Linked DNA regions of Homo sapiens: all the other regions are linked to region 1. Evidence: fine-mapped expression QTL. A gene starts in region 1. Each other region holds a variant in brackets. All regions are shown on one strand. Distances are from middle to middle.

What was found. PIP is the estimated chance that this variant, and not a neighbour inherited with it, causes the effect.
Region 2: its variant is fine-mapped to the expression of LINC03000 in testis (GTEx, PIP above 0.99).
Region 3: its variant is fine-mapped to the expression of LINC03000 in prefrontal cortex (ROSMAP, PIP 0.95).
Region 4: its variant is fine-mapped to the expression of LINC03000 in caudate (GTEx, PIP above 0.99).

What each region holds. Positions count from the first base shown.
Region 1 is chr5:164,293,848-164,300,034 of GRCh38, forward strand. It overlaps LINC03000 (long intergenic non-protein coding RNA 3000), which reads left to right and starts at 2,858. Exons shown (of 5, transcript XR_001742489.2): 1 at 2,858-3,349.
Region 2 is chr5:164,466,794-164,472,980 of GRCh38, forward strand. The region is part of intron 2 of LINC03000 (long intergenic non-protein coding RNA 3000); the gene reads left to right. LINC02143 (long intergenic non-protein coding RNA 2143) reads right to left here and starts at 609. Exons shown (of 4, transcript NR_105064.1): 1 at 554-609. LOC102546299 (a long non-coding RNA gene) reads left to right here and starts at 3,486. Exons shown (of 4, transcript NR_105065.1): 1 at 3,486-3,675. The variant A/G (reference allele first, on the strand shown) is at 3,441.
Region 3 is chr5:164,269,149-164,275,335 of GRCh38, forward strand. No RefSeq gene overlaps it. Among named protein-coding and RNA genes, the nearest start is that of LINC03000, 24 kb to the right of the region's middle. The variant G/T (reference allele first, on the strand shown) is at 2,802.
Region 4 is chr5:164,351,528-164,357,714 of GRCh38, forward strand. LINC03000 (long intergenic non-protein coding RNA 3000) reads left to right here. Exons shown (of 5, transcript XR_001742489.2): 2 at 2,614-2,697. Among named protein-coding and RNA genes, the nearest start is that of LINC03000, 58 kb to the left of the region's middle. The variant G/A (reference allele first, on the strand shown) is at 2,702.

The DNA of each region.
Region 1 (6,187 bases):
GTTTTATCTGTGTGTTATGGTTTATCTCCACCAAACTCATGTTGAAATTTGATCCCCAGTGGGGTGATGTTGAAAGGTGAGGCCTAAGGGGAGAGGTGTGGGTTCTGGGATTGGATCTTTTATCAGTGACTTGGTGATGTTCTCTCTGTAGTGAATGAGTCTTGCTCTCATGAGGCTGGATTCGTTCTCATAGGAATAGAGTAGTTCCTGAGAGACTGGGTTTTTAGAAAGCCAGGACGTCCCTCAGGTTTGCCTCCATTGGCATGTGTCTATGTCCCCTTTGACCTTCTTCACCATATTGCGAGGCAGTGCAAAAACCCTCACTGGAAGCCAGGGTCATGCCCTTGAACTTCTCAGCCTTCAGAACCTTGAGTTAAATAAACCTCTTTCTTTATAAATTACCCAGTCTCAGATGTTCTTTTATAGCAAGACAAAATAGACGAAGACAATGTGTGAATCCATTTCTCAATTCATAAGTGAATTGAGGTTATAATAATAATATACTCCTCATAAAGCTGTTGTGAAGATCACATGAGTTCATACATTATAAAAACTTAAAGGAGGATAGGGCATAGGGTAAACACACCCATGGGCAAATGTTAGCTATTAAAATACAACACTTATTATCACAGACTGAAGTGAGAGAAAGCTATACAGCATAGCTTATTATTCTAGTTAGATCCTGAGAGGTAATAAGTGTAACAAAAACAAGAAGCTATTTAAATCTGTTGAGCTTGTGATATGTCCCTGGCTCAACAACAAATTGGCTTTCTAATAATCCCAATGGAATGTCAATGAAAATTAAATTGTTAGAACCATTTTAAATAAATAAATTGAAAGTTTGAAAATCTGGAATATGTAGAAATTTAATATGCCCTTAATATTTCCTATTCTTAATTTAGAAAAATACGTATCGCCAAACCGTGGAGTTTCACACGTGATATTAGGACTGTGGACAAGGAATTATATACTAAATGCTAAAGAACAGTGTTTTTTAATGTACATTAAGAATGTTTTGGTTACTAACAGAAAAGCATATCAAAGTGACTTAAAAAGTGATGTAACACATTGGTGCGCATAACTAGAAGTTGAGTTCCTGTTGGCTCTAAAGTTGTTTAATCCAAACCTACATTGATTTCTTCAAATATCTAGTTTCTTTCTTTGTCTCCAATTTGTCATATTCATCTTAAAACTGGACCCTAACTCATTGATTCATCACTGAACAATTTTTCCTCCATTCCGTTTCACTGGGCCAGTGTAAGAAACTATGCTGTTCTTGAGCCAGTGACTATCAGCAAGTGAACATCATGCCCGAATTGGTTCAGGTCTGGGTTTATTAACCAATTACTTCCAAGTATGATGCTGTTACCATGATAGGCTTAGACTCAACAGGGTCTGCTGCCCAACATGAAATCATTTCCCTAAATTACACGGTACTTCGCAATGGAATAAAGGTGAAACGGATGCTGTGATATCACTTACGATATCCATCAATCTTACTATGGCAGACACTATTATTTCCCCCATATTCCCTTGTTTTCTTCTTTTTAAGTAAAAGGCTCTTCAGGTTTTTAGCCATATACATGGCCATTTCACATAGACACTCTATTTTCCAGTCTTCCAGTCTCATTTGCAGTAAGCTCTGGCCATATGGTTAATTTCTAGTCAAAAACATGTCATGTTCAACTTCCAAGGTATGTCCTTAAATAGGGAACATATTGTCCTCATTCTTCTCAGCTCCTGAAGTTTGAATACCAATTTAGTGGCTAAAGCTTGAGATACTATCTTGGAGTGTGTTGCTAATGGTGGAGCAACAAGGAGCCTAGTTCCTGATATCATGGAGCTCATATCTAGCCCTGGAACACTTAGCTGCAGACTTCATTTTCATCAGGGATAGAAATAAAGTTATATTTTAGTCTAGCAACTATTTACTTCAGGTGTTTTGGCATTCATGGAAAAGTCTCATCCTAACTTATACTTAATTATTTTACCAAATACTGTTGCCTACATTATATGATTGTGCTTTAAAAGTCTCATCGTTACAGTATACATTGATTAGGACCAGTATTTGAGAGTGTGCATCTCAAAGTTCTGTATCCATAGTTTAGTAACCACCTGTAGTTTTGTTAGCATGAAAACAACTTCTGACTCTCTTTATGCAAATACCTGTAGGCCATTATCTGCTAAATCTTTCTTAAATATGTGGTATATATTAGCCTACGTTTATTTGTCTATTAATACTTGCAAAAGCCACAGCAAAACATGATGTATATAAGTAGGATGATTTTTTGTTATCAAAACTGAATGATAGCTATAGGAAACCAGTGAGTACCATTAATTCACTCTGTTCAATTCTTTGCACTTACCTTCTTTCAGACTCGTTCATCAGTTTCACTTTAGTTTATCTCAGTTTCTATTTTTGGCACCTGTGAGATATGGATGCTTTTTGTTTGTTTGCTCACCTCTCCCCAACCCTCCCTACTCAGTCCCTCAGGAATACTGAGACTAGAGAAATTCATCTTCCCCTACCATGAAAACATTTTTCTGGGGCCTAACATACCTGATCTTTATCTTCCAAAGTTAGAAAATTCAGTTACTTTGGCGACAGCTTGGGAATGAGGTAGGTTCTCCAAGTTTAGCAGAGTAGAAAACTATCTAAAATAGTTTTGTTCAGGGTGTCCAGACATTTAATAAAACATTTTTTACCCACAGAAAATGTGGTCCCTTAGAGGAGAAGCAAGGTCCTGAGCCAAACTTTATAATGTACGTTCCTAGGAGGGAAAGCGAGGGAAATTCAGTCCACCGCTCTGCCTGCCTGCCTGCCTGCCTGCCTGCCTGAGGAGTTGCAGTGCAGAGTATCATTGCAGCGCTTTTCCAGGGAGTAACGTGCTGCACTGGTTCAGGGCTTTGTCTTTATTCACAACACATTCATGTGCCTCAGCATGGGGGCAGCTGCACTGTTGCCTGCCAGCCTGTCCTCTTTGACTGCCGAATGAACCAAAGGATAACTCTCCATTCGTGAGAGAGAGTGAGCTACAGAGGAAGAAAGACCACGCAAAAGGGAGGGGGAGAGAGGGGGGCGAAGAGGATGTTCTCCGGCTCACTCCTACATTAGGTCTCTGTGCAAAGGCAGAGGCTGTGGGAGCAGCATCAAGCAAGACTTCGGGCAGTGATTCTAACTATTGCCTATGAACACCGTGGCTGGGACGACTTTGACGAGGCAATTTATTACTTACGCATAGAACACTGGCTGTGCTGAAACTGGGAGCGCAAACAGCCCCTTGTTTTCTAATTTAGAGACTTGCATCTTTTCGACACTCAACAGTATCAAGACACTCTGCTACTACAGGTAAGACGCAGTTAAGATTTGTCTATTTGTGACATCATTACACTTTAACACACTTTAAACTATGAATACTTTTTTTATATTGTGCCTGGTCTATGTTGAACTGCCTTTTTCCCTTCATATTAGCCTCTCTTCAAGTAAATAATTTCACTAAGAAAAAACTGCTGTTAAATGAAGGAACCACTACTAAATCTTTGCTAAGAGGAATCTACATAATTGTATTTCCATGAGCTCTGAGTTCACAGTTGGGAACTTGAACTTAAACTGGGATCTGGGATGCATTTCATAATATATATATATATTTTTTTTTTCTAAATGTACTGAATTATTCACTATCATTTGGATAAGCCAAAATTATTCTCTTGCTACAGTGCTGTGCTGTGTATATGTTTAGTGGCTTTTTTTTTTTTTTTAAACCTCATAGTTTGGGGAAACTAATGATGAGGCACATAACTTGTGGAGTTTGATCACATCATTACCATGTGGTGTAATCTACTCAGTCAGAAAGATGTGCTGTTCTAGCCTTTACTGAGAAGGTGTTATCTTGTGTACATACATATATCATCAATAGGTAGCATGAACATGTGAAATATTTGTAAGACTAAGAGAAAATGCAAGGATGGTGATAATTCACATGCTGTATGATATCATTGAGTCTCGAGTTTGCTTTACATAAAAATTACAAAATTACCTTTGTTTTTATAACTGGTCTCCATCTTCACTTGTCAGTTTTTACAAAATAAAATTAGCTTTCAGGTGAGGTCACTCGGAGTTGTTGATATAGCTGGGAAAACTGTAATCACAGAAACATATTAATAATGTGTTGAATGTCTATAGAGATATAGGAGTAATATTATCAAGAGGCTTGTACAATTTTCCTCTGCTCTGTTTTGATAAGAGCATCTCATAGTATTAGTCACTTGTAACTTGGATTGATTCTGCTGTCCCATTCAGGGTCCCAATGACTTGGAAGTAAAATTACATTGTTGTCTGTGATCAAAGCTAAAAGCTAGGAAGATTTAATAATAAAGTCTTCTTTCCTTGACATTTTTGCTTAAATTTACCCGATCTAATATATATATTTTTCTATCCATGTGTGTCTGAGGTGTTCTTTCTATTAACCGTATTTTATATAAGAGCTGCTCCTATTTGAATTCCTACACCTGAACTATTTAATTGCTGATAATTGGGCATCATTAGATTGACCCTTGGATAGCTAATGGCTTTAACTTTGACATACAATAAAATATGTAGCATAAGATTAAAGCAGCTCCTAGCAGAGCACATGTTTAACAGTGAAGTATTGTGAAAATAGAACCATTTGCATTTAAAAATACATAATTCATTGGAAGACTTGTGATTCTTGTTCTTGTGCATGACTTATTTCATTTCCAATTTCACTTACAAAAGGTTTAAGTCCTTGGGGAATGTATGTAAAATATTCATTTGACTGAGGGTGTGAAAATTAAAGGAGGAATGAATTATTACTACAGTGACTTTTTTTTAGGAGTTTTTGAAAGTTAGTAACTGGCATGAATGTAAAAAATTAATTTGAGAGTCTCTCCTAGGGTACACCAAAAAAAAGCAAGAAAATGTTGATGTGAAATATATGTCAATATGCGAAATTACTCAGAAGATGAAAGGGAATGAAAATAGAAAAGAGAAGTTTTACAGTCTGTAAAAGGAAGAATATTTTCAGTAAACATAAACTCTATACTCTTTCTTTTATGACTGATAAGGAAACAAGGTATCAAGAATAGTATTTATCCAACATGAATGAAATCCCAGTGGCCACATATGAGGTGCAAAAATAAATGTTCTTTTTACTTAGTTAATAAATTTGAATATACAATTACTGAAATTGTATCTTGCATGAAATATTTATTGAAGTTATAAAGTTAGAAAAGTCACTGACAAACTATTTCAAAGTTTATTAATATTCATATTCTTTATTCATATGATTTATATGTTTTCCTTTCTTCCTAAGGAATGCGTATACTCAACACAATAGTATATGTGCTTTGTTTTGAAACTTTTCAACATTAGTTTTAAAATTACTTACTAAAAATCGTTCAGACCAGTCATCTCATTTCTCCAAAAAGAGACATATTCTAGATTTTCTTCTTGGATATACTACAAAAGCACTAACTTTATATTTATACACATTAAAGCAATATGCATTGTTTAATGATTTATAACATTCAGTATTATGTTTGTTTCTCCAAACTTTCTAGTTTTTCCAACTGTTAGAACTTTACAAATGTCTTATAAGAGTAAATTCATTATTACTATGATTTTCAGGGTCTTGGAGTTGTAAACTGTTTTAGACAGAACCTTTTAAAAATTATTGGAGTAGTCATCTCATTAATAACACTTTTAAGTATTTTTTCAACAATTACCTGATATATTTTGGCAAGAATATGTCCCTCCTCTCAATTTCTTTAGAATTTCAACTTTTCTACTAGAGAAAGTTTGGAAAACTTTTCTTTCAATGTCACTTTATGTTTGAACTAGATCAGAAGTTGTAAACTTATCTGGATCTTTAGTAATGTCAGATTAGATAATATAGTTATTGTAATACTCTTTTTGACATGGGGGAGTTTTCATGTGATGCAGAACGTATTAGCTAAGGTGGAATTTGGTTAAGTTAGTTTTGAGGCTTTGGATGATGTAACAAAAGTTAAAAACAAAATATTTCATTTCCTTGCTATCTGAGGGGATATAAACTCTGTCCTCTGCAAGCATACTGCATCAATTATTTATAATTTGTTGAAATAGATTTTGTTTTCATTGATGTGGTATTGGTCTACTGAAATGTTTCTTCTTGATTTTCAACAGGAA
Region 2 (6,187 bases), 170 kb after region 1:
GCTGAGATTACAGGCGTGAGCCACCGCACCCAGCCCAGATAAATGTATTCTTATTTCTTCCACTCTTCTCAAAACTATCTACGTTTTTGCCCAAAGCTTCCAATAGACCTTTCTCTCCCGCTATTTTTAACATTGATTTTATCGAGGCCAGTCTCTTTAGGAGTCAAGAGCTTGTAGACACTGTCCCTGTTTCAGTTGGTCACCGAAAATACTCAGTCCCCTCAACACCCCCTCTTCCTCATTTAGCCAGATTCTGCTTATTTTAAACATTCAACTTCCATCCCTCCTTCCCGCTGACTACCCACCACACTCTGTTCATTCGCTTCAACTCTCAATTGCTATTGTACTTTTATGCTGTTCCACACGATTTACCAGTTACTCATAATATGTCTTGTATTATTAATGGATATTTTACACATTCTAGCTTGCATCCCCCAACTAAAACACAAGCTTGCAGTGTCAGGAATTGTAAAAAACATTTCTATATCCCAAGGCAGTTCCAAACACGTCATGGCCAGAGTCCAGATCTCCATCAGGGCTGATCGCTATTCACCTATCAAGTCTTGGTTTCAAACACGCTCGTGAAGCCTTCGTCCTCTCTCAGTACCTGGCACATACCGGTATTATGGTCATTTCAGCCCGTTGTGTTGTCATCTTTTTCTGCTTTTCTTTTGTCTACCCACTAGGAGCAGAGCCTGATGAGGTAAAGGATTATGTATCTTATCATTACTATATCCTTAGTATTTAGCACAATGCCTAGTGGAGGATAGGGGCTCACTATGTATTTGCTAAATGAATAAGTCAATAATCTTGGTCTCCTTTCATTTATGCAGGCATAAGATATTTTTCCTTTATAAGAAGATTCAGAAAATCTGGATAAATTTTGAAAAAATTATCTGCTTAGATCTTTAAAACATAGGTAAAACCAAGTAAAATTTCTTATTGACATTTTGTTCTGTGCACAGAGAGTAATATAGTGGTTAAATAGACTTGAGCTTTGCAATCAAACATGTCTGCATTCTGATTCTGCATGACCTTGAGGAAGTTCCATAGCCTTCATAAGTCTCAGTGACCTCATAAAAAAGTGAGAATTGACTGACTACCTCACAGTGTTGTTGTAACAATTAAGTAGTGTAATGCATGTAGAACTCCTGGCAAATTGACTAGCACAGAATGAGGCTTCAGATCATTTTAATCAATTATTCTTTATTAAGGCAATTTAATAGGAGAAAAGACTAAATGTTATTTCTTGTGCTTCACAGATGTATTCCAGATGAATATACATTTAAAAATATACAAAGAATAAACACAGACAAGTAGAATACCTTTGATTACACAGCTACAAAAATCTGACCACCTTGAAATACTGTGTCAGGGTTAGCAAACTTCCTCTGTAAGGCCAAATAGTAAAAGTTTCAGGCTCTGTGAACTATATGATCTCTGCCACAACTATTGAACTCTGTCATCATAGCATAAAAGTAGCCAGAGACAACACATACACAAATGAGCATAGCTATGACCCAATGAAACATTATTTACTAAAACAGGTAGTGGGCCAGATTTGCCAATTATTGTACTATAATGGATACACTTTCTCTCACAAGAGAATTCTACCATAGGTAATAATTTTATATTTGTATATTTGTGCAATGATGCCAAAACGTAAATGAACAGAAATGTTTAAAAAACATGATGTTTTTTAAACATTGTTAAAAAACAAGACCAAAGCATAATGTTTAAGAAATGTGAATGTATATTTCCATCTTTAAAGGCATTTGAATACAGTACATGAAATTCAAAACCTCAGTTGTGAATTCGCTATTTACCAATGACAAGGTTTAAGTTCTTCAGTGGCCATGAGTAAGTTAAGTTTGTCATCACTTTTTGCCCTGGTGTAGTATTTTCCAAATAGTAAATGCTCAATTCACATGTACATTAAAGTAAATACTAAGAAAACCCTCACATGTAACTAGACACAATTCTATTCATGTATCTTTGAAATCAACTGGAGACATTATCAATTAATGCAAAGATCCTGGGCTTTCAATCCAAAGAAGCTTACCTCTCTGCTCCAGATGCTCATCTTGCTGGCTGTGTGTCTCCAGGTAAGTTCTGTAATGTGGCAGAAATAATATTTGTCTTAAAGCAATGGTTGTCAGCCAGAGTGCAGTTTTTCCCCCAGGGCACATTTGCAATGTCTGAAGACATTTTCAATTTTTTTTATTTATTTATTTTTTTTTTTTGAGACAGAGTCTTGCCCTGTTGCCCAGTCTGCAATGCAAGTGTGCAATCTCGGCTCACTGCAACCTCTGCCTCCCAGGCTCAAGAGATCCTCCCACCTCAGCCTCCTAAGTAACTGGGACTACAGGTGTGCACCATCACACCCAGCTAATTCTTATATTTCTTGTAGAGATGGGCTTTTGTCATTTTGCCCAGGCTGGTCTCCAGCTCCTGGGCTCAAGTGATCTTCCTGCCTCAGCCTCCCAAAGTGCTGGGATTACAGGTGTGAGCCACCGCACTCTGTCTCATTTTCACCATTTGGGATGAGAGACGTTACTGGTTTCTAATAAGTAGAGGCCAGAAATTGTGCTTAATATCTTACAATACCCAGGACAATCCCTACCCTGAAAGAATTATCCAGCCCAAAATGTCAATAGTTCCAAGTTGGGCAAACTCTGCTCTAAGGTTTTTGTGAGGATTAATTCACATAGTGCTCTAAAGGTTTAGCAGAATACTGGGCTCAATAAATCTTAACTGTTAATAAGACTGATTTCTATTGACTGGTAGAAAATATACCTTTATGCAAATTTCGAGTGAACACAAACATGTATAAAAATAAATGAACTCTCTATTTTTGGGGCTAGAAGCTTATTGAAGCATTTCTTTAGATTAAATAATAAAATTAATACCTAGTCATGTATGTATTGACATCTAGAATCCATATGCTCTTTGTGAGCCTTGAAAGGTTTTGAATGATACTTGACTATTCTGTCATTGCCATGGTAAATGTTTTATCTTGTTGTTAATATCTGACTTATTTAAAATTCATGTGGGAAATTTGAAAGTTCTATTTCCTATCTTGAAAATCAATGACAACTTAATCAATGCTGCTAAAACAAGCCCCAGTTCTTATGTAGTAGAAAAGTAAATAAGATGGAGAATTAAAAGTGACAGAATCTTCACATCAAGGACAGAGAGCATATTTCTATCTCGTTCTTCTATGTCTGCAGCCTGAAATATTCCATCTGCTTGCCTCTTTCCTCAGGGAATTGAAGCACCTTGAAAAGGATAAGAAAACTTCAACATTACAACGATGTTTCATATCATTAGGCTCAAATTAAGTAAATAACAGAATCCTAAGCTGATGACACATCCTGGGTTTGCACTAATCATAATTTGCAATCTCCATCATTGTCATCAGAACCTTTTTGCCTAGCAAC[A/G]TTCCTGCTGCTGCTTCTGTTCCGACCCTCTGGGTGCAACTGAAGGAGGAGGCAGTCAAAAGGAAAAACACAAATATCTCCAAGATGGCACTTACAAAAAGCAACAACAATGACAAAGTATAAATACAAACACACACCTTGAAGTTTATGTTCTTACTCAAATGCAAGCATCAACAATGGCCTACTGTCAGCAAGTTAAATGGCTGGGGCTGTTTCAGTCTCCCATTACATGAAGGTATGCAAGCTCATGCTAATACGTATCAGTTGGTACCAAATGAGTGAGTGAGTCAGGAGTGATGAATGAAGTGTGAGGGAAATTGCACTGTTCCTGTACCATCTAAAAGGGTAATGGATATTCAATTCTGCTTGTTTTTGGTCACTGCATATGAGTGCAGAGTGGTTAAGTCTTCCAATTTTTTTCTAAGACAGAAATCTGGAAAGGTTGACATAATTCCATCAAGGAATGAGATTGAAATAAATATATAAACAATTAAAAAGTAGTGTAAAATAGTACAACCACTCTGGAAAATTGGCATTTTCTAATGAAGTTAAATGTACACCTACCATAGGACAATTCTACTTCTAGATATTTACCTTAGATAAATGGAAACATATGTCTATGAAAATGATTTATATAAAATGTCACAGCAGCTGTTTTATCATAATAGCCCCAAACTGGAAACAACTACCACTTCTCTTCCAGCCATTATTCAGATGGCATGCTTCCCCACGCTTTGATTACTCTCCTTTGAATATTTTTCCATTTGTCTGCCTTCCATTCATAATGTAAGATTTTCAGTGTTGTTAGACAGTACAGAGCACAGTGAAGCTGGTCTCTGCTTTATATTACTTTCCATATTTTCACAGATGTAGTCAAAGAAAATGCTAGGTATTTTGTTACATGTTTTCATTGATTTATGTTTTTTAATAGATTCCTATTGAACATAGTTACTTAAATGGTTCAAACACTTACATATCTGCCTCTAATTATCTGCCTTTTTTATTCTATTCCTGTATAAAAACATTACTTGTTCTCTTACACTTTTGCTCAAACGGCATATTGCGATTCATTTTAATCTTGTTTGATTTGATTTACCCATTTCTGTAAGCTATTTAACTTTATTGAAATGCTCTCTGGTTGTGAGAGGCAATTTTATTTGGGACACCAGCATTGTAACTATCTCCATCCTGATGGGCATATACTATATGCTAGGTGCATTTATGTTAGTTATCCCACATCATCCATACAATGGGTAGATGGCCTTTTCCAAATTATAGTTTTATAGATGAGGAAGTTGAGGTTTAGAATAGTTTAAATCACTTGACTAAAGCTACACATCTGATAAATGGCGAAGCCAGAACTCTCTTCCAAGTGTAACAATTTCAAAATCCATATGCCTAATCATTATGATTTTATTTATCTGTAATTTGAAAATAGTCTCTTCTGATCATTCTAGCCATTGCTAAAATTTATAGTAAGACTTGGGTCAAAGTTCTAATGCTTTAAGAACACAATTCTTGAGTAACACACACACTTCTCACTTAGCTCAAGTAAGATAACAACCCACTAAATTTACAAAAACACATTTCACCCACCCTGTTTCTAAAACCTAGTCCAAAAGGATATAATTAAAGGCTTGAATGAACACACCTGGACTTCAGCATAATGATCATGTTTATTCATAGTTTCCAGTCTTGTTCTAGTCAACTCATATGTGTTTAGCCTAAGACATTTCTCTTGCCTGCACACACTGTCTTATTTCTGAAACCAGATTGCTTCTAAAAATTGATGTATATATTTAATGCAACAGCATTTCTAAGACTGATGTCCCATTGAGGAGCTAGGGTAACCTGTTGTGAATCTTTTGAATGCTAAAGGTTATGTTCCAGTCTATAGTTATCAATATTCGTCTTTCGAAAATGAGAGCTACCTTTTTCTTCTCAACTTTCTTGTGCCTCTCCTGTTGGTCCTTTATTCTCTTTGATTAATTCAATATCAAGTTTTCAATCTCATTGGTAAGTTTTCTCACTTTGGAACTTAGACAACCAAAGCCTGGCCACAAAGCCATTTATTCAGGGCAGAATGTTTCTCCCCAACCACTTTACCTGCATGGTGCTTCAACCACTTCTGTCAAGTGTTTGTTCCACTCTTGAGATGCTATGCTTTTGAAGGGATAAAAAACGTAGCTTGTTAACCTCAAGCACTTTTTTGTTTTCTTCTTGTAAATGTAAAAACCTTGAAAGATCTTTTGTTTGTCCTTGTGTCCTTATAAACATCAGGTCTTTGAATTTCAGCTTTCCTGAATTTATTTGTAACTCAAAACTTCTGTCTGTCTTTGTTCTTTATATGCATGCTTTAAAAAATCTAAGGTTAATATAGATTTCCTTATTCAACAATGTTTAAGAAAAATAAAACCTAGCATTTTAGAGTATTTATGAATTAGAAATTCTAACTGTCTTACAAACTTACCTAATATAAACCTTCTAAAAATTGTGAACAGTTACCTCCATTTGACAGATACTGAAATTGAGGCTCAGAGACTTTAATTTGCTCAAGTGACATAGCCATAAAAATGTAGAACTAATCCATTTAATTTTAAACCCCATGCTCTTAACTAACATTCTTGACAAAAGCCTCACCTTCTGTCAAGTCCTGTATCCTTTTCTTATCATCTTGCTTTCCATCATTCTTACCGTTGCCACAGAACAATGCCTACCTTTTCTCTCAACATTTAAAATTATTTCTA
Region 3 (6,187 bases), 25 kb before region 1:
CTTTCCCAAACATGACATCCAGTAGTACCTAGAATTTAAGAAAGTGGAAGCCTGACAACCTATTTTATAGCATTTATTTGCCTGTTATATATGTTACATTTCCATAAAGTTAGAACTGTTTTACATAAAACTGCATTTAAATTAATTTTAAAGCATTTGTGGGTACACTAGCATATGCACGTAAATAATTTTAAACATAGTTCTTAATTCTTGTGATGCGTTGGAATAATCTGAAGGCCTTTTTAAAAATGCTGATGCTGGGGCTCCATACCTACAAATTCTTACTCAGTTTGCTATGATGGGCTACAAGCTTTGTATTCTCCCATTCATAAAGGTCAAAACCTCAGGTCATTTTGGATTCCTCTCACATCTTCATTTCTTATATAATTAATTCCTGTATATGCTTCTGTGGAATTTTGGTCAATATTTACTTTTCCTTTCTGTATGCCTAACCATTATGCTAATTCACCCTCTCATTAATGTCTACTATTACCATAATAACAGTCTCCTAAATATTCTCTCTAATATTTCTCCTGGCATTAGGGCTATAATGGAAATGAATAATAGTTACTATTCACTAAGAATTTCCAATGTAAAGGGTATAGTGCTAGATATGCTAAGTCATTTAGACCTGACAATGACCTTGATATACAGATTTTATTTTCTTTCCCATATTACGCAGATGGAAACGGAAGCACTGATAGACTACAGGCCATCTTATCATGCTTAAAAGTGGAAAAACTGTGAGTAAAATTCAAATATATTTAATTTTTAAGTGTCTCCTCTTAAAATATTCTGTCTCTCATTCTCATTCTGTATGAAGTGTGATATGGTTCGGCTCTGTGTCCCCACCCAAATCTCATATCGAATTGTGATTCCCATTGTTGGAGGTGAGGCCTGGTGGGAGGTGATTCGGTCATGGGGGTGGTTTCTAATGGTTTAGCACCATCCCCCTAGTGCTATCTCCTGATACAGTTCTCAGGAGATTTATTGTTTGAAAGTATGTAACACCTCCCACTTCGCATGTGTGCACGCACTCTATCTCTTGCTTGTTCGCTCCCTCCCTCCCTCCCTCTCTCCTGCCAGCCATGTGAATATGTGCTTGCTTTCCCGTCACCTTCCGCCATGATTGTAAGTTTCCTGAAGCCTCCCCAGAAGCAGAAGCCTGTACAGCCCACAGAACTGTGAGCTGATTAAACCTCTTTTCTTTATAAATTAACCAGTCTCTGGTATGTCTTTATGGCAGTGTGAGAATGGACTAATACAAGGTGCATTCTTGTGTGACAATTTAATGTTTCTTTATCCTCTCTAGTGCATGCTTCCTGAGGGCAGAAATTTTATGTGCTTTTCACACAAAAATTGTTAAGTTTGCAGACTTTATTTAGTAAAAGTTGAATAATAGAATACTTTGCAATACAAGATAAAGTTTATTGGAAAGTTACAGCATTTTTTTTGTCTTCTCAGAGATTATATTTTTGTTTTAAGTCAGTAATGATCCTTCACCTTCATATTATTAATTTGTTTTGACTATCCACTATTTAAATGCAGTACAAAAATAAATGCCAGCTCCATAATAAAATCTCCATGATTCCAAATTAGTGAATAAAAACATTATGAATAAGATTATTTAGCTACCAAAATTGTCCCTTCAAAACTCAAATTATATTATATAATCATTAGATGCCGTCAGTACCATCTTAGGCATGTATTACTGTTAAAAGCTTAAAAATGATATTATTTTAAGAAGAAAATATGATTTTGGCTCTATCATATTATCTCAATGTTATATAAAGTATGCACAGAGAAAAAGACAGACAGGATGTTGCACTGAAATATTACCTGCTTGTGAGATGACAAGTGTTTTTTTTCTACCTTCTGCCTTCTGTTTTAAATTTTTTAATGGAAAATAATATCTTATACTTGAATGGAAAACAGAAAGCTTATTTTTAAAAAGGAATATTTTATAAATAACTACAGATTACTCAAGAAAATTGAAGGTAAATATTCTAGGAAAACCAAAAGAAGTTTATGACTTCTCATTTTAAGTATCACAACCAAACAAACAAACAATAATGGGGATGAAGGCCAAGTAAATTTTATTATCGACTGAAGAATATTAGTGTTTTGGCCATGACAGAAAGTTTGAAAATATCATAAATATTGAAACAAGGGAATGACAAAAAATGTCAGAGATAAGACCCAAGAAATACCTCTTACTATTTTCTATTAACAGAAGGTTACTAAAACATTCATAGCCCAAGGCCCTACTGGGCTAATTTTTTTTTTTTTGGAAGATGCTACAGCAGCACAAAAACCCACTGGTAGATATCTCTGAATATACTCTATGAGCCGAAGGAGCAATATTTAAAGCATAACAAAGCTATTTTTATATATGTATGGACCATCTAAACATTTACACGATTTACAGATAAATTTATGCCAGCTCCATAATAAAAGCTCCATGATTCCAAATTAGTGCTAAAAACATTATGAACAAGATTATTTAGCTACCAAAATTGTCCCTTCAAAACTCATATTATATAATGATTAGATGCCATCAGTACCATCTCAGGTATGTATTACTGTTAAAAGCTTAAAAATGATACTATTTTAAGAAGGAAAATATGATTTTGGCTCTAGTATCATTATTAACAGAAAAATACTTAGTATAGAATAGATTAAAATGCTGAAAAGAGGTTTTAATGACCAGTTCATTACAATTCCCTAAAATCTAGCAGTAAAAAATAAACTATGAGGATATGAATTATAAAATGTTCATTAAGCAACTTTTCAAATACTGA[G/T]TCCCTAGTGTGAGTTGTAAAGGCACATGTTTCTGGCAGAGGGTAGGGTATCTGCACACACCCAAAAGCAGACATCTTCAAGCTTGTGAATATTTGAAAGATGTGGTACACAGCATGATGAGAAAGGAAAGTTCAGCGAGATAGGACCCTGTAAACTATATTCAGAGAAGAGAGTTACAGGACAGAATTCAAATTTTTCACACTGTCTTGTGATAAACAGATATAATTGGTGTGGAGGAGTGGCAGGTGTATCAGTCAGGGTCTAGCAGGAAATAGATGGTACAGTCAAAGGGGACAAAAGGCACTTCATAATCACTTTTTCAAAGGTGGGGTCAGGGTTAAAGAAAGCCAACACAGGTTGTTGAAAGCTCCAAGGCCTAGCAGCAGCTTAAAGGGGCAAGGAAAGAACTCACAGGAACCTAGGAAAAAACTATAGTTGCCAAAGGTGTGGTAATAGAAGCTGTGACTGTAAGATAGGGAAGTCATCATTGTCCAACCACTGCCCATTAAGGGAGCAAAAGGGGACTAAATCCCCTAAGGTCCCATCTCCTGCAGGTGAATTCACATTTGCCAAACCCAGCAAAAGCCCAAGCCTGTGAATGCCATTATGGCAGTTAGCCTCCAGAAGCCTAAAGCACGATACAAGGGTAGATGATAGATCTGGAGGTGCAAATGGAAAATATCTAGGGTAGGCTGTGCTGAGAGGCAGAAAGAGAAAGGAGTCCAAAGCAGTGGTCAGAGTTAGGAATGATGGTGTTGAGACTGGAGAGATGGTCGGAAAAGGAGAGAAGTCAGAGAATTTGTGGATGGGAATTTTCAGAACAGATATCTCTTTCTAAACCATTCCCTTTTCTAGTTACATTGTCTTTAAGTTGACAAGAATGATACAGCAATTGTGAATTTTTTGATAAATGACGACTATAAGTATCATTAACACATAACTATTTTATCACTACCTTAGATGTTTAATTTTATAGAGCCCTACCTGCCAAGTATTAAGTGACTTCATGTTTATTCCTTTTAACACCCATGTGAGGTAGATATAATTATTTCTATTTAAGATATAATTTGTTTTTGAGACAGGGTCTTGCTCTGTCATCCAGGCTGCAGTATAGTGGCACCATCTCAGCTCACTTCAACGTTTTCGCTTCCCAGGCTCAAGTGATTCTCCCACCTCAGCCTCCTGAGTCACTGGGACCACAGGCACATGCCACCACGCCTGGCTAATATTGTATTTTATGTAGAGACAGGGTTTTGCCATGTTGCTCAGGCTGGTCTTGAACTCCTGGACTCAAGGGATCTACCCACCTCAGCCTCCCAAAATGCTGGGATTACAGGCGTGAGCCACAGCACCTGGCCAGAAATGGAAGATTAAATCATTTGTTCAAGTCAGAGAGGGAGCCACCATTTGACCACATGGCCACCATATTATCTTGCCTCACCAGTCTGCCACGCTGTTGCTCTATCTCCTATACGGGTTTCTAGGTTTGATGCTGTGGACTTGAAAAGTATGTATAAATCTCAACCTTGACTTTGAATGTGTAATCTAACTGGGGAATGGGACACATATCCAAAGTGATACACGATGGCACACAATTACATAATAATGACTGAATGGGTGGTATGGTTCATTTCAGAGGAGTAAGGATGTCATCACTGAAGGGAGGGGACAATCTGCATGAAATAAAAATTAGACTCTGTCCTACAGTTTTAGGAAGAGATTTGATTATCACAATTATATGACTGTCCATACATACATACACAGACACAGAGATATCCAATATGGATATTTATTACAATATCTGTTCTGTACTGTCAAGGCACAAATATAGTTCCACCTATAGTATATTTTTAACAACAATTCAAAATTTTATCTGACCTACTTATATGAGCCTTGTCCCTGCATTGCATTACCAAACTGGCTGAAAACTTCAGACTATATTTATTCCAAAAGCTGTCATTTTTATTCTGCATACCAGGGAGAAGGAGAAACAGGGTTATTTGCTGAATAGTACCTCTTACTTTTGGGATGCCTGATGCTATTACTTCAGCAGACTGGTCTGTCCTGGTCTAAGTCGCAATTTTCAACTGTGTGCCAGTGTCCTTGCTGGTTGTTTCTTGCCTGTACCAAAGTTGTGTTGCATCCTTGGGAAGCATGATCATAGGTGTCTTGCTTCACAGTTGCAAACTCGGGCATTGTCTTTCAAAGCACTAGTACTTTGCAGGGCTGCTGGGTGCCCAGTGCATGAGACCTGACCTCGATCAAAAATTCCTGACACTCTTCTTAGTCAAGGTTTCCAGCACAAATTCCCCCACCTTCCTAAAAAGTCTTATTTTGGATATTCTCGTATGTATGTATGTGTGTGTGTGTGTGTGTGTGTGTGTGTGTGTGTGTGTGTGTGTATACACATATATATACTATCTCTTCTTAGGAAACAAGCTCTGTATACTAAGGATATGAGACACTATTTTTTAATCCACTGCGGCAAATAAGGGCCTATTTTTCTGCACTTACAAAGTTAAGTGGGCTGCACTGTTAACTTTTCACAGGTTTTGAAAGTATAATCACTAAAAATTTTTAATTAAAAAATTTAACTCTATACTTAATAATAATGTATACTCCAAGATAACTAAAAGAAAAGATTTTAAATGTTCTCACCACAAATAAGTTATAAATATTTGGGATGATGGATATGCTAAGTAGCCGTATTTGGTCATCCCAAAATGTATACATGTATGCACACAGCACATCAATATATACAATTATTTGTCAATAAAAAATAAAATAAAACTTTAAAAAGCATAATTTAAAAATTTTATTATTTTATTTTTTCATAATAAAAGTTTAAAAAATAAAAAAGTAGGCCGGGCGCAGTGGCTCACACCTGTAATCCCAGTACTTTGGGAGATCGAGGTTGGCAGATCACAATGTCAAGAGATCGAGACCATCCTGGCCAACATGGTGAAACCCTGTCTCTACTAAAAGTACAAAAATTAGCTGGGTGTGGTGGCATGTGCCTGTCGTCCTGGGTACTCAGGAGGCTGAGGCAGGAGAGTCGCTTAAATCCAGGAGGTGGAGGTTGCAGTGAGCCAAGATCATGCCACTGCACTCCAGCCTGGCAACAGAGTGAGACTCAGTCAAAAGAATAAAAAAGTAAAATGTTGATTGAGTGAAAAGAAAAAAGCACAGAAATATTATATTTCATTAGTACTGAAAACCAAATGTGGGCATTTTGACATTCAATTACTGAGTTTATTTTTGGAAGTTGGTTGGTGTTGCATATTACAGACAATCCTGAATAAGTTGAGGAGATAGGGCTATATCCAAAGATCCAAAGTGTCCTGGATTATCAATTAATTTCACATAAAAAATATGCCTTCAGCGC
Region 4 (6,187 bases), 58 kb after region 1:
GCCAACATAAATAGACATATTAAGTAACTAGAGAAATAATCTGTTTTATTTCTGGCTTTAATGTAAAAACTGACCTCAGATATAAACTCTCATGTTTAATCTTCAGAATCATTTTTCTGTCCTTACAAAGAGATTGAGAAGCTTGGGTGATCATTTTATTTAATGTCAAAGTCCTATTTTAAAAGCAATTATAAAATAGAGTAGCAAACAGATGTCCATTCTTTCAGTCCATTGTGATGAATCAAAACAAATCTATCATAACAATTGTATTAAACTATGTAATCTGCTCAGTGAAGCAAGTAAAATAAACCAACATAAACAATATCCAGAAGGTAGTGATTTCAGTAGTTATAATGAACGTATTATAATAGTCTCTCATGGCTAAAAATGTGAGGTCCTTGGAATCATATCATAGATATAATTCCAGTTTATCAATGAAGACTTTTTCAACTTCTCTGATTCTCAGTTTCCTCATCTCTGATATGTAAATAATAATCTATAACCTCCAGGATTAGTGACAAAAAGAAGATGAATACAAAGTGTCTAACCCAGTACACACCACATTGCTTCTTAAGAACTGCTATGGATTCTTACGTCTATTTTGCTTACTTGTTCTTTAAATTTTAATCTCAACTCAATCTGAGGGTGTGAATTCCATGAAAGGGCATCCAAAACCACTTATGAAAAATGCTTTATGTTGGTACATCATTGAGGACAGATACTACCTGCTAGCAAGTCCAAAGCCAGTTTTCTCTCCTGCTTTTGGTTGGGGGACTATTCCTCTGGTTAAATATTAGACAAAGGCCATGGGCGGTGGCTCATGCCTGTAATCCCAGCACTTTGAGAGGCCGAGGTTGGCAGATCACCTGAGGTCAGGAGTTTAAGACCAGCCTAGCCAACATGTCTCAGAAAAAAAAAATATATATTAGCTGGGCAGAATGAATGATAGGTGCCTGTAATCCCAGCTACCCTGTCTCAAAGAAAAAAAAAAAAAAAATTAGCTGGGCAGGATGATGGGTGTCTGTAATACCAGCTACTCCAGAGGCTGAGGTGGGAGAATCGCTTGAACCTGGGAGGCGGAGGTTTCAGTGAGCCAAGATTGTGCCATTGCACTCCAGCCTCCATCTCAAAAACAAACAAGCAAACAAAAAATTAGACCACCTAGCTGGAGTAGTTGGCTTACATCTAATTTTTTTTAAGCCTTTAAAAAGCCATCATACCCAGGAAGCTTCACTTAGGAACTGAGACCCACAGGGGAGAGGAAGATTTCCATCCCCCTAATTTATTCACACACTAAAGTTAAGCCATTAGCTAACTGGCCTGGGAGTTCACATGCCTGAAAGTGTGGCTTGCCTTTTTCTTGTCTGAGCACACATATTTGAACTGGGCTGTAATTATGAGAAAATATCATCTTTGGTGCCTCGGCTGGCAAAAGAAAAAAAAAAAAAGACAAAAAACAGGGTTGGAAACACTCAACGATTGGACTCACACCCAGAAAAGTCATTTTGTGCACACTCTTGCTTTAAATAAAAAGTATGTTTCAAATGTTATAGACAGATACATCTACTGAAAGATTTAAAACAAAAAGACTTAAAATTTCTTGTAGATCCCTTCAAGTATGCCTGAGTGTTTATTCTAAGTCCCTTATGTTATAATTAAAGCCTTACCTTCAAATATTTTCTCTGATTTCCTAAAATGATTTTGCTGTATTTTCCTCCCTCCCTGAGTAGATCTTTGCCTTAGAAAACTAATCTGCCAAAAGACATTCCTGCAGAGATATACTGCCAAGGCAGGAAAAAGAAAATAGTAAACGTTAGAGGCATTTTTACTGCTAAAGCCCCAGAAGCAACAATCTTATCTCTAAGTCTGTAACACAAGCACATTAATCTGATTTGCATGTCATCTAAACAGAGAATGGGTTTGGAGAGCTCTGTATCATCTCAAGTGAAAATTAGATTAGCAATGTGGTTTAATGTTGGCCAATAAAAGAGAGGAGAAAGTATGTTTAAATAATTTTAAGTTTAAAAGAGTAAAATAAATGGAAAATGTACAGATCTTTCTTTAAATAAAGAGTAGCTGCTGTTCTATCGCAATGATATGATACATTATAAAAGTATATAGCCTAACTTGATAAAGGAATAGGGATTGAGTCTATTTTTCTGAAACGGAATATAACTTTGGATCTTAAACACTCTCATGGATCTATAACAGCCATGAAAATATTCATTGGTCACTGTACCTAGGGCTTAAAATAAGTCAAAGAAGTGGATGACTGATGAAATCCCTACACATTTTACCTTGTGATATGCTTTCCTACATGTTTAATTTATGTAGAGCCCTTTGGGGAATATTGACTGTGTTTGCCAGAGACACATTTTTGAGTTCATCATGTCTTTTATCAATGTTATCACTTAAGAAAGTGGTATTACTGTTATATCAATATTTTATACAAACATAGGTCATTTCTAGTGACAAAAAGAACTTTAGTTACTAAACCACAGCTTCAGTTTGATTTTATTTTTCTGAGAAACACTTCGTATTACATCGAGTTTCAATTGGATTTTTTTCACATGTTAACATCTCTCAGAAAGATCATTTTTTATCATGTTCCAGATTGATTTCCACCATCAACACCTTTACCTCTTCCCGCCTGAAAATAAAATATGAAATATAACAAGTAAATCGCAATCTACCTTGGTAA[G/A]TAAAATGAATTTAATGATAAAGAACAAATTGGCTCAGGGCCCCCAATTCACTTGTTCAGAGGGAAGACACTAGGGTAAAGTTATACTTCCTTTGATTGCGTAACTTCAGATGTCATACAGTGTCACTTCTGCTTCATTTTATTGCTGAAGGCAGTTGTAAAGTTCTACCCAGCTCGAAGGGGAGAAAAAACAGACTCCACCTTTCAGTGAAGGACTGTCAATATAACACTGTAAGAAATGCACGTGGGACAGGTTATATATTCATTCACTCTTTTTTGGAAAATACAATGACCCCAGGGCTCCCCGCTAGTTGGGTAGAACACAGGCTAAATTTAAACCCTCACTTCCCTTCTTGGCTATCACCCTTGCACAGTGAACAACCTTCATAATCATACATGGAGGCCTTACTTAATGGGTCAAAAAGACCTTTGATATTACTTATGCCTCTCTTTACCGATGTGACTTGAGAAAGTTATTTGAATGTTCTTTTTCCAAATTTCCATACTGTATTGCAGTGAAAATGAAATGAGAAAATACGTTTAATGTGAATAACACAATGCTCGATATGAGTTTTCTCTTGTCCTTATGTGAACAAATCCATTAGATTTAACCATATAAAATTGCCATATTTGAAAGTAAAAAAAAATGGTTAAATATAGGCAATTTCACTAGATTTCCCAACATAATAAATTTTTATTGATAAATCACAGAAAATGTTTTCTTCTGTTAAACCGTAAAAGATCCTCAAATTGCATAGAAAATATGTCTTAAGCTATTTCTGATTTTAAACACAGATAACTTATGGACTTAATACTAGAAAACCAAATAAAACCTGTGATTAGAAGAATTGCCCAATTGCCTTTTTAACTGTTTGACTTTGGTTCCCCAATTCATTCTTAGTATAGGATGACTCAAAAATTCATAACTATATGAAAGCCTCTTCTATTATTGTCATGTTTTTAATTGGACTAAGATTAGTAATTTGCATGTTGGCTGGATAAAGGGATATCATAATATTTACTACTTTTTTTCCTCATATCTTTTTTCCCCTCAAATGTAAGTTTTCAAACAGCCTACTCTTCTTTTATTAAAGCTCATATCTTCTCTGAATTCTTTTGAGATCTGCTTCTCAATGTCTAAAAAGTCCATCGTTAGCTCAAATTTCCCGCCTCCGGGCATCAAGATTAGAACCCATATCTTCAGCAGTGACAGAAAAACCCATTAATCTGTTGTATCCCCCTGGCTCTCTGCCCAGTTTTGCACATTCAGAATGATTTACTGTATTGAAATTTTCCACATTATTCAGCATTGGCAATCCATCATCTGAGCAAATTATATATCTAGCCTCCCATCAGTCCAAATGTGTTTAGATAATGAAGCTTCTCCAAAGCTTCAGTCATCCCAAAACTGTGTTATAGAAAGGTGTGTAATTCACAAAGTCATTGGAAATGTATTATAAAGGAAGGAAGTTTCTCCTTCCTGAAAGTTTTTTTTATGTGCTAGAGAAAGAAATAAACTGTAAAGTCAATTAAGTTACTTCTTTCAAAAGGAATAAGAAAAAAATAGAAATGTGGAAAAATGAATAAATAAAAAAATTTCATATTTTATTCTTACTTGACACTTCAGCATATTTCTATTTACATTAAACCTTATTAATTGCTTAAAGGGTTATCTTTTGTTGTGGCATTGAAATGTGACCAATAGTCAATAAACAAAAGAAAATGACCGAAAATGACGCTGATGTATTTAGGGACAAACAGATCCCACCTGAAAGTTCAGTGTCTATTATGGCCAGTTATTGGTGAGGTTTGTTTTCCGTGTGGTTCTGTCTCTCAACACTCTTTCCCACAAAGCATTCTCAATACCTAGATTTTAAAAACTGAACATTCATGATTTTCGTCCGTTATATTTAGAGTGATCCTTTATTCCAGTCTGCTCAGAATGTTGTAGTTTATACCTGCTGTCCTGTAGCCTGTCTGATTATTGCCTAAGTCCATCTCAAAAGTATTCTGGTATGGACAATGATATATAAAATCCCTCTCTATTTAAAAATTATGTTACCCTCTTCTTGCTATGAAGTCCAAAAAGAGACAGACCCATTCATAACCAAAATAGATTAGATCTCTCCAATTAAATAGATCTCTCTCTGTATTGTTAGTGGAGAATTATGAAGAACAATAAGTTTGACATTAGTGTAGAGGATTTGTATAATATTTTAACAATTTACTCAAATTTAGTAATGAAGGGGACAAGAGGTAATGTTTTCATTCCTTTGACACAACTAAGATACAGGAATGAATAATGCAGATCACAGTTAAATTAGCCACTGAAGTCGAACCCTTCAGTTACAGGGTTTCCTCTCTTTCAACTGCTGATCTGTTGTTTCCATCATCTCTCTAATAACCCCAGCAAGTGACCTCCCACCTCTATTTGAACATTACTCCTCCTATACAAAACTTAAACCACCTCTGAAATTCTCCTAGGCAGACCTACCGGTTAATATAGAAGCTTCTCAACTTACAACAGAGCTACGTCCTGATAAACCTATTGTAAGTTGAAAATATCCTAAGTCAAAATTGGGCATTTAGTAGACATGATGGGATGTGAAAACACAACACAAAATATCCAAAAAATGCCGGCAACAGAATACACTATAGAATACTAGCTGCTTACCCTCCTGATCACAGGGCTGACTGACAGCTGTGGCTTACTGCCACTCCCCAGCATTGCAAGAGAGTATTGTACCACATATTACTAGCTTGGGAAAAAGATCAGAATTCAAAATTTGAAGTACGGTTTCACTTTCGCATCATCATGAAGTTGAAAAGTCCTAAGTCAAGCCATCCTAAGTTGGGGACTGGACTGTCTGTACGTTCTTTCTTGTTTTGAGCAGAAATCTATTTCCACATAACTTCTATTTGTAATTACAGATTGTACATTGTGGTCTCTTTCTTTATAAAGCAAGGCTTAGAATTTTGAAGTACTCAGTCATATTCTTCAAGAGTTTCTTTTCCTGCTTAAACACCTCCTTATGACTTTTTAAAAATCTTCCAATTATTTTTTTTTTTTCAGTACCTCTGGATAAGATTCAGTTTGTTAATATTTCATTTATAATGTGGTTCTCAGATGTATAGATTGTTTTATGAAGTTTATGTGATGTATTTGTTCCCCCCATTTAGCAAAGTTGGTGTGACATATAAAAATAAATAATAAATAATACTTATTTAATATTTAACTATATTCTACCATCTATGCTAAGAATTTCATATTCATTATTCTAAGAAGTAGTTACAGCACTAATTCTAAGAAGTAGTTACAGCAATTTTCCTATTATACAAAAGAGGAAGTTGAGCTCAGGAAAATTAGGTAAAATGCCAGAGATCACTCATGTAAGAAGGTAAGTAGAATATAGAGCGCAAATCTAAATCTGCCTGATCCCAAAGCCTGCTCTTCACCATCTTAACCTTCTACATGTGTGTTTTTTT